2 separate regions of the Homo sapiens genome follow, and region 2 is linked to region 1. Evidence: fine-mapped QTL for protein levels in blood plasma. A gene starts in region 1. The other region holds a variant in brackets. All regions are shown on one strand. Distances are between the middles of the regions. Region 1 holds the start of WARS1 (tryptophanyl-tRNA synthetase 1). Region 2 holds the start of LOC124903382 (a long non-coding RNA gene).

Evidence for each region. PIP is the chance, under the fine-mapping model, that this variant and not a neighbour inherited with it causes the effect. The UK Biobank Pharma Proteomics Project read protein levels with antibody pairs (Olink). The fine-mapping took linkage between variants from a reference panel, not from the people measured, so its PIPs are less certain.
Region 2: its variant is fine-mapped to the plasma level of the WARS1 protein (UK Biobank, PIP 0.93).

The regions. Positions count from the first base shown.
Region 1 is chr14:100,374,334-100,378,832 of GRCh38, forward strand. WARS1 (tryptophanyl-tRNA synthetase 1) reads right to left here and starts at 1,014. Exons shown (of 11, transcript NM_004184.4): 1 at 950-1,014. It overlaps WDR25 (WD repeat domain 25), which reads left to right and starts at 2,152. Exons shown (of 7, transcript NM_001161476.3): 1 at 2,152-2,162. RefSeq lists enhancers at 966-1,105, 1,116-1,475 and silencers at 1,986-2,045, 2,236-2,285.
Region 2 is chr14:100,530,424-100,539,125 of GRCh38, forward strand. BEGAIN (brain enriched guanylate kinase associated) reads right to left here. Exons shown (of 7, transcript NM_001385089.1): 7 at 6,724-8,702. The coding sequence ends at 7,546. It overlaps LOC124903382 (a long non-coding RNA gene), which reads left to right and starts at 7,549. Exons shown (of 2, transcript XR_007064334.1): 1 at 7,549-8,702. The variant A/G (reference allele first, on the strand shown) is at 2,088.

The DNA.
Region 1 (4,499 bases):
CGTGTAAAGAGCAAAACTGCCTACTCCACAGCAGATCACAGCAGACCTTCAAGGAGAAAGCTAAAAAGCCTCTTGAAAATTAACCCCCAGTTCCCCCTTTTCAAGAACTTGAATCTTGTGCTCATTCTGAAAGTTTCCACTGTGGTGGAGGAGCATAATAGGCACTTAAAGAAACTGGGTATTGTATTGGGATGAGGAGTGGAAAGGACTATAGAATTGTTTAACAGAACAACATGATAAAGACTTGGGTTGCATCAAAATCATCTCACAGAGATCAGGGCACGCTGATTCTGCAATCTGGGGAAGGGTGGCATCAAGACAGCCAATTCTGGAGCAGGTGAGAAGAGAATGTGGCCCAGGAGTGTTTCTGGATCCCTGGAATACCACCAGGAGGTAGAATACCATCCTTTCTATCTTGGCCCCAGAGTGTAGGTGACAATACCTTTGGACTGGCAAGTTCCCAGAGGACAAGAAAATGACTTCTTTAGAGCAAGGATTTCTTGACACCTTTTGGGACCCATCATGTTCCATTTTTTTTAAACACTAAAAGAAAGATTGCTTTCCCCGCCAAATAACAGCATGAACATTATCTTAAAAGGCAAAGACATTAATTTCTATGAAGCCAGGCACGAGACACTTTTGGGTGTCACAATAAGAATGACAATACGTTCTGATGTTGAGCACAGAAGGAGGGTGCATCAGTGAAAATTATGACAGACAGCATGACGGTGCTGAGAGGCAAGCTACGGATCCAAGCCCGCGACTGCTCAGCCAGGATCTCTGTTCCCTATGGGAGCAGTGAATCACCTGAACTTTGGGTCAATGGAAGAAGTAAAATGCATAACACCCTAATCCTAAGACACAAGTCCTGACCCCCTAAACCAAGGTTTTCAGCACTTTGCTAAAAACACGAACAAGCTCTAAGCCTGGCAAAGATGGCAATACATACCCAGGTTGTGGAAGACACTGCAGAGGTGGCCACTGGTCACGCTGGGCAGTTGAGCTGCTGAGAGTGCCCTGCCCAGCCAGAAATGGTCTTTAATACTCTTCCCCTCTTTCTTTCAGTTTCCCTTCTGAAAAAAGATGCTTTTGTCTTTCGTTCTCCCCACCCTGCATTCAGCTAAGGGTTTCTTATAAATCACCCAGATTCTCAGAAACACTTGAGCTCTTGACCAACCTTCTTGATGAGACTGTCCAATCAGGGGTGGGTTGCCTGGGGGGCCAGGTTGAGACCAATGAAACCCTCTTGAGAATCGAGCCATTAGCTGGTCATTGCATCAGCCACCCCTCACCCCCCGCTGGCCTCCAAATAACCTCCCCACCCTCTTCCCGTTCCCCACCCTCAGCGTCAGTGTGACTGATTTTGTGTAGTCGTGGGCGGTGGAAAGAGAAACTGTAAATTCCCCGCATCTGTTCACCGAGGCGGCACAGTGCAGTGGAAAGATCAGGAGTTCTGGGGTCACAGACGCCTGGGTTTCAATCCCAGCTTGGACTTATTCGAAACCTTGGGCAAGGGTCGCATTACTTTTCTGCTTCCCCTTCGGTTTCCTCATCTGTGGAATGGGCATGGAGAAGCCTGCTAACATTACCGTTGAGGGGACTAAGTGCAACACTACGCAAAGCCTCTGGCACATGGCAGGCGCTAAATAAAAATGGGGGCCTCTCTCCTCGGGAAAAGCGAACAGGCGGAGACGATGAAGGGTGCCAGTGGGAAAGGGAGACGGGGTGGGTCGGCGGCGCTCAGAGGAAAGGGGCGAGGGGTCGGTGGCAGGCTCCGCGCCTCACAGTGCCAGAACGCGGCGGGCAGCAAGCCGGGCTCTAAGGATACTCCCGGGAGGGCCAGGCCACTGGGCGCCGCGCCAGCGTCCCTCCATCACTCCCTCCCTTGTTTCCTCACTCCGCCCCGGCCTTACTCCCCTCGCTTACCCTGCCCAGCCGGGCCAGTCAGCGCTCCCGGCTCAGCAACCGGCTGTCTCCTGGGCGTCCGTGGAAACGCCGTCCGGACGGAACAACTTCCGGCCCGACGGCGCCGTCATTGGCTGTTCGCGCGGGGGCGGGGCAGAGGCCGCCACTGATTGGCTGGCGGCCGCGGCGTCGCGTCGGAACGTGACTGGATGGTAGTGTGCTGGCCGGTCTGCCTCCGGGAGAACCGAGCGCTTCCGGTGCGTGTGGTGAGCGGCGGGCCCCGGGCTGGAGGGGCCGGGACTGGGCAGCGCCTAAAGCGCCCCGTGCCGCTTAACGCGGTCTCTCATAGCCGCTCGCCTTCCTTTCACTTCCTGTTCCTTCAGAAAGCGCTGTGCCTTGGACCAACCTTACTTCTTACTATTGACAGCTCAGCTAACTCCTATTCATCCTTCAAAACCCATCTCTGGTCGTATCTTGTTTGTTGCTTTCATCGCTCTGGGGCCTCCGGGGGGATCTGTGTTTTGTGTTTGATTTCCACCCACACCAGACCCAGCATAGGGCTTGACAAAGAGTACGTAATCAGGAAATGTTTGTTGAATGGGAATATCCTATTTCTTTTACTTCCTAGCATCTCCCCCTCCCACCCGTTTGCATTCCAGAAATATTTTTAGACGCTGGGCATTGAATAGTGAACAAAACACAGAAAGTCCTGTCCTCATGGGGCTGACTTGCTGATAGTGACTGTCAGAGTCACTCGCTCCTTCCTTAGACTCTTCTCCAGTGTCCCTGCCTTCCCTTCCATCTTACTGTCTGTTCCTCTTCGTTTAATCCCTCATCTCCTTCCAGAGGGAGCACGGGCACCCTGGTGGTGGGAATCTGGGTGCATGGTGGGTGGTGCCTGGGCAGAGGAGTTGAGAGTGGCCTCGGGACCAGGCTTAGCATTTAGAGAACAGAAATGCCAAATTATTTGCAGTGCACGGTTCCATTAGTTTATAATTAGTCTTTCATATTATATTAGTTCCATTGGAGATGAGCTGGCTGGCTGGCTTTAGAAGTTGTTGTTGTTGTTGTTGTTTTTTGAGACCAAGTCTCGCTCTGTAGCCCAGGCTGGAGTGCAGTGGCGTGATCTCCACTCACCGCAACCTCCGCCTCCCGGGTTCAAGCAATTCTGCGGCCTCAGCCTCCAGAGTAGCTGGGATTACAGGCGCGCACCACTGCACACGGCTAAATTTTTTTTTTTTTTGTATTTTTAGTAGAGACGGGGTTTCACCATGTTGGCCAGGCTGGTCTTGAACCCCCGACCTCAGGTAATCCGCCCTTCTCGGCCTCCTACAGTGCTAGGATTACAGGCGTGAGCCACCGCGCCCGGTCGTTTTATTTAAACTCTGGCTTTGCGTGTGGAAGTTGTTACCTGCCTGGAATGGGCTGCGAACGGGGGCGGCATTACTAGAGGAGGCTGACTACAGACATTTATGGAATGATGACCTGACTTGTAGACCAGTGGAACCCTCAGGCGAATGATGCCACTTGGGGGAAAGGTGTGGAAGAGGTTGGGTGGTTGATTCCAGGGGACATAGAAACCCATTGTCTAGAAGAAGAGATGGGTAATAGGCTGTCTGGAATGACTTAGAAAAGGACTTGGAGGGAATCTGTTGATGCTGACCTGACTCCACCTGTTGGGGGATGGAGGCGGAGCTTGGCGTGTTTGATTAAGGTTGGGTGCACTGGGTTTTCTTGGAAGTCGGTCTATTGCCTGAGCGTTCTGTGCTGTTCCACCGCGCCCTCTGCTGTCCTAGGAGTGCCTAGCACCCTTCTTTTTCTCTGGATTGTGCTTGGTGCTAACAGCACAGAAGTAAAAAATTACCAAAGCACTTCTTTCTGGGAACTAATTGATAACCATGTATTGTGTATGATGGTTCAGAATTTCAGAAAGATTTTTTTTTTTTTTGAGACGAAGTTTCACTCTTGTCGCCCAGGCTGGGGTGCAATGGCGCGATCTTGGCTCACTGCAACCTCTGCCTCCTGGGTTTAAATGATTCTCCTGCCTCAGCCTCCCGAGTAGCTGGGATTACAGGCGTGTGCCACCACGCCCGGCTAATTTTTGTATTTTAGTAGAGACAGGGTTTCACCATGTTGGCCAGGCTGGTCTCGAACTCGACCTCAGGTGATCCGCCCACCTCGGCCTCCCAAAGTGCTGGGATTACAGGCATGAGCCACTATGCCCTGCCCAGAAAGATTTTTTTTAACAAGTAGAAATTCATTGCAGTGTGAATCTGTGTGTTGGGAGTGAAATGGGTGGATTTGGATCATGCCCTCAGAATTGCTCCCTGCACACTTGGGTAGACGGACACCTCAGGACCTTAGCCTTGTGCTGTGGGCCTGTCTGTCCAGCTGGCTGCTACAGAGATGGGATACCTGGGGGAAGAATGTTCCAGGCAGGCCGGGCGCGGTGGCTCACGCCTGTAATCCCAGCACTTTGGGAGGCCGAGGCGGGCGGATCACGAGGTCAGGAGATCGAGACCATCCCGGCTAAAACGGTGAAACCCCGTCTCTACTAAAAATACAAAAAATTAGCCGGGCGTAGTGGCGGGCGC
Region 2 (8,702 bases), 160 kb after region 1:
GGAGTCCTGAAGTGGGGGTGGTCTGGGTCTTTGGTCTGCCCTCAGGGATTCTGTTGGAGCTCAGCGCCCCACCAGCCTCACAGGCCCCAGCCGCTTGCACTCCCCAGGACTGTGGCCAGCTGGGCCCCTGGTTGGCCCAAGCCTTGGGCCCCTTGGGCAGCCCTTGCCCCGCCAGTGTGCATGCTGCCCATGCAGGTGTGCCCGCCTGGTGAGGGAGCCGCGTGGAGAAGTGAGGGACCCTTGAGGAGCCTGGAGGAGCTGGGCTGGGAGGAGGCCTGGCTCCTCAGGTGCCTGTACAGGCTGATTAGATGGAACCCCCACCAGAATTGTAACTGAGGGGCTACTCCAGGAGCCCAGGGATCTGCTGACAGGCGAGGGTGGGGCCCACTGGTACCTTGGAAGGCTTCCTGGAGGAGGCAGACCTCAACTTGGTGAAGACAGTGTCCCTGGCAGGGGAGTCAGTGGAGAAGGGCAGAGAATGTGAGGAGGCTGCCCATGGGCCAAAGCAGTGGGGGACGCAGGAGGAGGTGGGCACTTGGCTCCCCCTCCCCACTATTCTGTCCCTGCTCCACTGTCACTGTAGCTGAGGCGAGGCAAGGCACCACTCCTCTCCCAGGTTCATCTCTGCATCTATAAAGCCAGGCATTGGAAGAGCCAGCCTGTAGGCTCACAGCTAGGGTCAGAGAAGGTCAAGTCTGTGGGGGTGTCCTGGAGGGGGCTGGAGCTGGCCTGGGGCTGGTGGGTGAAGACCTGTGTATCAGTGTGTCCAGGGGGTCACTGGGATCCCTGGGCTCCGTGGGAGGGGTATCCCAGACAGAGGGAGGAGCTGTGCAAAGGCCCCAAGGTGGGGCTTCTGAGGGCTGAGTCTTCCTGCCCCACAGTCACTGCAGAGCCTGACACATGGCAGGCATCTGGTCTACAGCACCTACTGTGTGCCTGTCTGTGGGTGGGGAAGCTGGAGTTGAGCACTGAGGGTGCTGAGTGCACGGCCCCAGTGTCCCCCTACTGTGTCCTGAGGACAGGGTGAGTGGGATCCCCTGGCCCATGTGGGGGCAGGGTCCTCATGACCCACAGTGGGAGCACCTTCTATGTATTTCTTTTAGGCTCAAGAATGGCTGTTTTGGTGAAAAGAGTTGCACCCCGTGCTCGGCGAGCTTGGTCACTGTCGAAAGTGAAGATTGCCACTGGCCTGAGCAAGGCGGTTGGGGGTGGTGGTACTGAGGCTGGTGCGGGAGATGGGCAGCCCCCACCCTCTGCCCCATGTGGCTGCTGGGGCCTCCCTCTCGTCACGCCTCTGGCCTTTGCCCTTTCTCCTCCTGTTCTGACAGGGGAGCTCCTATGACCTCTGGGGCCCACCCCATCACCCCCACCCAGCAGGCTGATGGTGCCTCAGGGCCTTTGCGCCCACCATCCCCCTCCTGCAGCCTCCTTCCCTCAGGGCTTGCTTGGATAGTATCTTCGTGGAAGCTCCTGTCACCCTCAGCCCCCTTTCCCCACAGATCCCCCGGCCCCACCGATGCCCCACACCTGCATTTGTGGTGGAGCACATGCCCCAGGCTGGGGTTCCTGCTCCCTGCTGGTGCCTGGCCCCGGCACAGAGTGGGCCTTCCACAAGTGACTGCAGGCGTGGCCTGGTGACCAGATGTGGGCCTGTCTGTGTCCTTCATTGCTGTGTGACTTTGGGCAAGCTGCCTAGCTCCCAGTTCCTCAGTTTCTCCTTCTGTGAAACAAGAACACATAATGCCCATCTCGTGGGGATCATGAGGCTGGGTGTGTGTGTCTCCCGGTAGGGCCCGTGTGTCATAGGCACTCAGGAAGTGGTGCTGGGACTTAGTGTCAGGCTGACCACTTGATGCAGGAGCTGAGCCAGTTTAGAGCAGAGTGCGAATGTGGCTCCCTTCTCAGACCTCGCCTCAGTGGGCCATGGGATGGTGGGCCTTGCTCCTACCCTTGCTGTCCCTGTCACTCTCTGGGCATTGGCCTTTTCCAGGTTCAATCTCACGGCAGAAGCCACCAGCTGGGGCTGCCGCCCTCATTCATTCCCACTGGACAAGTCCAGAACTCAGATTGACTGACTTCTGTCACAC[A/G]CATGCTCCACACCCAGGCTCCTTGGGCAGGTGTGGTGGGAACTGTGATTTGTAGCAGGGAAAGTAATCTCCTCCCCAAGTGCAGGACCCTCCTACAAGTATTTTCACGAGGGTGTGTCTCCCCAGCTCCAGGCCTGAGCAGGCCTCAGCACATGTTTGTGGAATGAATGGATGCTGTGCGAATGAACCCAGACACATGGGGGAGGGAAAGCTGCAGTGGTCGGGGTGGAGGGAGGCCCGGGCTTCTCAGGCCGTTTCTTATTTGCCTTTCCCATCCCCACACCTCACTGCCAGCCCCAGACCTTGGAGTCCAGATGCTCTGCTTCCTGACCCAGTACAAACCCCAGTGGTTTTCCACCTTCCTGATGGTGATTTTGTGATGGAGAATTTCATTGCAGCGTTTGCTGATTGTTCCCTACCGTGTGATATGTTCGTGTTACCACTGATTTAACATGACCATCAGTCACAGATGACACTGTGTCAGGCTTCTGAGGGCTGGGATATAGCTGTTGAAAGGCTTCCTGTCTGCCTGGGCTCCTGGCCCCACTCCTGTGCTGGGCACACATCACTGCCTGCCACCTGTGGGACTCGGAGCCAGGAGACCAGCTCATGTCCCAGGGCCATTTCCTGCTGGTCTGAGGCCTTTGCAGGGGCCTTGCTTCTCTGAGCTTTGTTTTCTCATCTGTAAAGTGGGCCTGTGGGGATAAGGAGAGACGAGGCAAAGGAAAGGACTTTGCAGATTGTCACCCAACTTCACTTGGGACAAACGCCATCCACTTCTGTGCGCCTGAAGTCCATTTATTTTCAAGTTGGTGGCCTTGAACCAACCCAAAGCTCTGACCCTTCTGGGGCGGGGGGGCCACCCAGGGCTCCACAGAAAACCCACTGTGGCGGTTACTTAGCTCCACCCTCTGTGGGTTTGATTTCTCAACACAGGCGCCTGTGGGAGCCAGCTGGCTGGCAGCCCCTTCCCTTTTTAGGTCATTTTATTGGGAAGAATGGCAGGTGTGCACCATGCTTTTATCTATTTCTTTTTCCAAACACTTTCTTCCAAAGAACATTCTTAAAGACTGACTTTGATCCTTGGCAAGGTGTCAGGGAGTTCACCGTTTGCAGTTTTAAAATAAGAAAGCTAAATTTAGAAAATGTGGAGCAGGAATGAAAAAGGAGTATGGTCTCTTCCCTCCACCCACCTTCCTGGGGCTGAGTGTTCACCTTCATCCTCTCCTAGAAAATCTGGGATGCCAGATCCGAAGCCATCGTGGAGAAAAACGGCTTCACCTCCAGATGCTGTGCAGGCTGTGTGTGCTGGCTGCAGTGCTGTGTGCCGGGCGTGGCCGTGGCTTTTTTCTGAGTGCAGCTGATGCTCGCAGCTTCTGACAGGGTGTCCATGATCCCCACTGTCCAGCAGAGGAAACTGCTGCCCTGAGGGCAGGGAGCCATGCCCAAGGCCCTCTGACCCCAAGCCTGAGCTCTTTTTGCACCTGGGATCCCTTCCCAAATGGCCTCCCGTAGGCGCCACCTCCACCTCACTTTGGCTGTCTGTACAGTGGGAGACCCAGCTGCCTAGAGGGTCCCTGGAAATTGCATTGATGAATGTCCTCAGGCTCCAGCAAGGGAAGCTGGCCAGGGGGCCTGGGTCTTGCCCAAGGTGACACTGTCAACTGGTGGCAGAGCCCAACCCTGCGCTGCCCTGCCGAGAGCTGAGGAGAAACATACATGGATGTGTGGGCGGGTGGCGGATGTGCAGACAGGGCCTCCCTGACGGCAAGGCAGGATCTCAGTGCAGGGAGAGGGCAGGGGTGGAGCAGGGAACCCTGTGCCAAGGCCGGCTGCCTGGGTAGATGGGGACTGTCCAGGACTTCCCGTTCAGCTGTGGGGACAGTCCAAGTGCAGAAGGTCGAAGGGCAGATCCAGAGGGAAACTGCCAGCTCCAGAGCTCAGCCCCTTGGGAGCCCCACAGGAGCACTGAACAGTTTCTAGAACTCTCCAGCTGTCACAGATCTGTGCCTTTTCATGGCTGTGTTCCATTTGCCTAAAATACCTGTTGAACTCCTATTCATCCTTCAACACCCATTGTGATCCTCTCCTCTGACCCCTTTCATTCGTCCTCCTGGAGCAGTGAGGGCCCTCCCCTCTGAGAGGCCCACAGGCCCTGTGTTCTGGAAGCCCTGAGCTGAGTGTTACACTGTCTGCCTTCCTCCCCCACCTCTGAGTTCCTTGTGGGCAGGGCCAGGTCCCCGAGGCCAGCATGAGGCTGCCAGCTGACAACAGCACCAGGGAAAGGAGGGGGGCACCGAGACCCAGCCCAAGGGATCCCGCGAGAGAAGAGTCACTGGTCAGAGCCACAGGTGCTCCTAAGTCTCAGGGCCCTGCTGAGCCAGCTTTGAGCCATGAGAATTGGGGATAGTGAACCAAGGTTCCCCAGCCTCAGCACCACAAGGAGCAGTGTCCTGACTGCCGTGCACAGCAGGCAGGCCCCCACCCCGGGGGTGTCAGCCTGACCCTGCCGCTGCAAGCCATGTGGACCCTCTCCTTCCTCTTCTCTCCTGCGCCTGAAGGCTGCCTGGCTCTGCAGCCAAAGTCACCGTCCCTACCCAGTCCTAGGCAGGGACCTAATGGTCCTGGCTGCTCCGGGAACAAGACACCTTGGAGGCCCGGCTGTGGCAGGCATTGCAGCCCAGGCAGGAGAGCCCTGTGAGGTGTGGAGGCCATCTTGGGGGCCGCAGGCTCTGAGGTGGCAATTTGGGGCCAACACCCTGGGTCTGGCCCCCCCAGATCTGGGCCAAGGCTGCCGCCCAGGGCAGGTATGTCTGATTCAGTAGCCCCCAGGAGTGAGACCTGGGTGGGGCCTTTGTCACCTAGAAGTGGCAGAGCCAGGGCGCCCCTCTTTTTGGCCTCAGCTTTCCCACGTCTGGGTGACAGAAATCTCACAGTTGACACTGGGGTAGCTGAAGCTTGGGTTCCCCTCTGGGAATGCCTCTGCCCACCGGGTGCCAGTTATTTCTCTCTCCCACCCTCTTGGCTGCCCCCAGCTCAGTGAGGGCTGTAGCCCCTGTTCTGCCCACAGGCCCCAGAGAGGAGAACAGAATCCCAAACCTCTCCAAGCTTCCCCCGGCTCAGGGAGGCTGCTTCCTGGGACGGCAGCTATGGCTGGAGAAGACACAGCCTGGCTGGCTCTGGCTTCTTCTGCAGAGGAAGGGGGAGGGCAGGGATGCAGGGAGCCACGGCTGATGCCCACTCTCCTTGGAGTGGTCTGACCATAGGCAGAGCCACGCTAGAGCTACACACAAAGCCAGGCGTGCCAGGGAACCTCCAGACACGAACCTGGGTGAGGTGCTCCCCACTGGGACATGCCCCAGGCACCTACAGGGACAGCTATAAAGGCCCTCTTAGGGAGGGGCCTCCATCCTCAGCCTTGAACCCACACATGCACCTCTTCAAGGGCAGGGATGAGCATGTGTCCAAGATGAGCAGGCGTCCAGAGAAACAGGGCCGCCGGAGCGGGAACCACGAGGAGGCCTGCACAGACCACATGGTCCGGTCCCAGACCAGCTTGTGAAATGGTTGTGCCCACTGTTTTGATAGAAATAAGAGATGAGCTGGAAAATATCTCCAGGGAATGGGAAGCTAAGAAAGTGGCACTGTGGATTTGTAAAACAACCAAGTAGAACCTCCAGAAATGAAAAACATGAATAACTGAAATGAAAACCTCAGCGGCTGTGTGTGGCGGCTGAATAGACATAGGAGGGAATTAGTGAGTTGGAAGACAGATGATGTGCAGTGTAGCAGGGAGAGCGCAGCAACCACGGAGGGTGTGGGGAGGGGCGGCAGGGCCCGCTGCAGGCCTGGGATGGCACAGGGTGTGGGGAGGGGTGACAGGGACCGTTGCAGGCCTGGAGTGGCACAGGGCATGGTGGGGGGTGACAGGGCCACTGCAGGCCTGAGGTAGCACAGGTCTGGGAAACAAACCCGGAGGGAGAAAACAGAGAGAATGGGCAGAGAAATGTTTTTAAAAAAATAATAGTTGAGAATTTTTCAGAACTGATGAAGTCCACCAATCCACAGATGTGACTCCCTGAGGATCCTCAGAAGGATTCCTAAGAAGGAACTCCACACCCAGACACACCTCAGGGAAACTGCAGAAAGCCAAAGTCAAAGAGAAAATCTTAAAGAGCCGGGGAAAAGAAAGCAATTTTTTTTTTCTAACCAATGGAGCGGCTCCGGGACTGACAGCCAGTTCCCAATACCAACAGGAAGACAGAGCAGAGCGGCAGCATCCCGTGTGCCCGGGAAAAGGCCACCTGCCGACATTCCATCCGTGGCCCCAGTACATCTCAAGGAGCAGAAGCCAAGTCTGAGACACGAGGATTAGGGGCCAGGAAATCGGTGGGGCAGCGCGCAGGAGAATGGGATGAAAGAGCTGTTGTCTCCAGTGGGTTGGGAGAAGCAGGAGAATCCACACCCTAGATAGGAACTTGGATGGCGGGGTGGGGACGGGGTGTTATGGGGATGGGGTGTGAAGTGGGGTTAAGGGGCCCAACTCGGCTGCAGAGAGCAAGGCTGGGGAGGGACACCAGGGACCCCAGGTTCCCGAGACCAAAAGGCAGGAGGAGGAGAAACAGCCCAACCCAGATTCTTTCCACCGGTGTCTTTTATTAATGAATGCAAAATACAGTACTAACTGGCAGGGCATGCATCAGAGACAACAAGAATGCAAGCTACAGAAACCAGGAATGGAGGGCCTCCTCATGTCTGAGGTAGAGTAAGACGGTGTCAGGGGGCGGACCCGGGGGCGGAGATGAGCACCGGCCGCACTGGGGCATCATCCCGGCCCACCCGGGACGATGGGCCGTGGGAGGGCTCAGGGCGGTGTGGTGGCCACACTGCGAAGAATGGATTTTTAAAACACTTCATAGCCCCGAATTTGTTTCAGCTCCCTCTTCGTGGACACAACTTCAGGGCTCCCTTGTCACTGGCTTGCGGGGGTGGTCTCCCCACTTGCAGAGTCTGGTCTCCACAGGACACCGTCCTTCCCTTCCCTTCCAAGGGGCAGGCCCCACGCACCCTCGCCCAAAAAATAAAGGAGCTTTGTGTTGAAAACGCCAAGGCAGCCGTCCAGGGAGCTGGAGGCCAAGTGCGTTAAGAAAGACCCTTTTTCTCTATAAAAATAGTTTCGCTTTATAAAAGGGGGGATGCTCCTCTCACATGGGGGAAGGACGCGTGAAAAACGCTCTAAGTGGAGTTCCACGGGCCGGGGCCGGGTGGACACCGTGGTGTGGGGGACCCTCCCCTCAGGCCTACAGGGCTGGGGAGGAGAGGAGGTGCGGGGAGGAACAGACTCCTCGTTGTTGGCCGGGGCAGGGGAACAGCGGGGGCTGGGGAGAGGTGAGGCCGGCCCTTCTGGGGCACGTGGGCTGGCGGGGAGCGAACCACGGCCAGGCCTGCACGCAGGCGCTCAGTTGAGCAAGGTTCCGTAGAGCTGGGCCTTGGTGAGGCTGTCCTTGCGGCTCAGCCCCGAGCCACCAGTCCGCGGAAAGGCCTGCTGGGGGCTGAGGCGGGCGGCAGGATGCATTTCCGGGGAGGCCTCCATGGAGCTCGGCTCCAAGGAGTCCCTGGAACCCTGCTCGGGCTCAGGGCTGCTGGCGGTCCCACACAGCTGCACCCCGAGCCTGTCCCCGTCCCCCCCCTCGCTGGGTGCATAGCCGGGCAGTGGGTCAGCCGAGCGGCCGGGACTGAGGCTCAGGTCGCCGCCCGCCCGCAGGAAGCAGGGCTCTGCCAGGTGGCCCTGGGAGAGGTCGTCCCCCTCGGAGAAGCTGTCGGCCTTGTAGCTGGCGTAGAGCGGGCTGGCGCGGCCGTCGGCCTTCTTGCCCGGGCTGCCCCCGGCCCCGCCGTAGTAGCGTTCAGAGAAGCTGCAGGGTGAGGCGCGGCCGGCAGCGCTCACGGGGTAGGAGTAGGCGCCGATGTCCTCCACGCTCAGGGGACGCCACTGGCCCCTCATGTCCTCCCCGGGGAGCCGGGCGGTCCCCGGCTTGGCCCGCAGGCTCCACAGGTTTGGGGGCATCAGGGCCTGCTGGGGACCCGGAGAGGCCGGGAAGCGGAAGGTCTCGGCCGGGTACGGTGACATGGTCCGCCCGAAGCCTGGGGCCACTTCGGCCTCCAGCGGGGCCGCCACCGCGGCCGTGGCCTTGGCAAAGCGAGGGCTGCCCTCGTAGGTGGTGGCGGGTGGCTTGCGGTCGAAGAGCTCGTCGCGGCTGTTCAGGTAGATGGCCTGCTGCGACGCGGTCAGCGTGCTGGCCTGCGCGTGCTCCTTCTCCTCCGACGTGGCGCTGAAGCTGGAGTAGGAGCTGGACGTGGGCAGTGAGCCTGCGTAGCTGGGGAAGGCCTCATGCTGGAAGCCCGCCGGGAAGGCCGCCGCCTCGGCCTCCTCCTCCTCCTCGGCCGCGCTGTCAGTGGAGTTCTGGGCCCGCAGGAAGCCCACGTCGGTCACGGGCGCGTCCACGCTAGGCCGCCGGTCTCGCCGCCGCTCCTCCGGGCAGTAGAGGGCTGTGTCACTGCAGTAGATGTCTCCCTTGTAGGGGGGCCGCGGGCCTGGTTTCTCCACCCCGTCGCAGA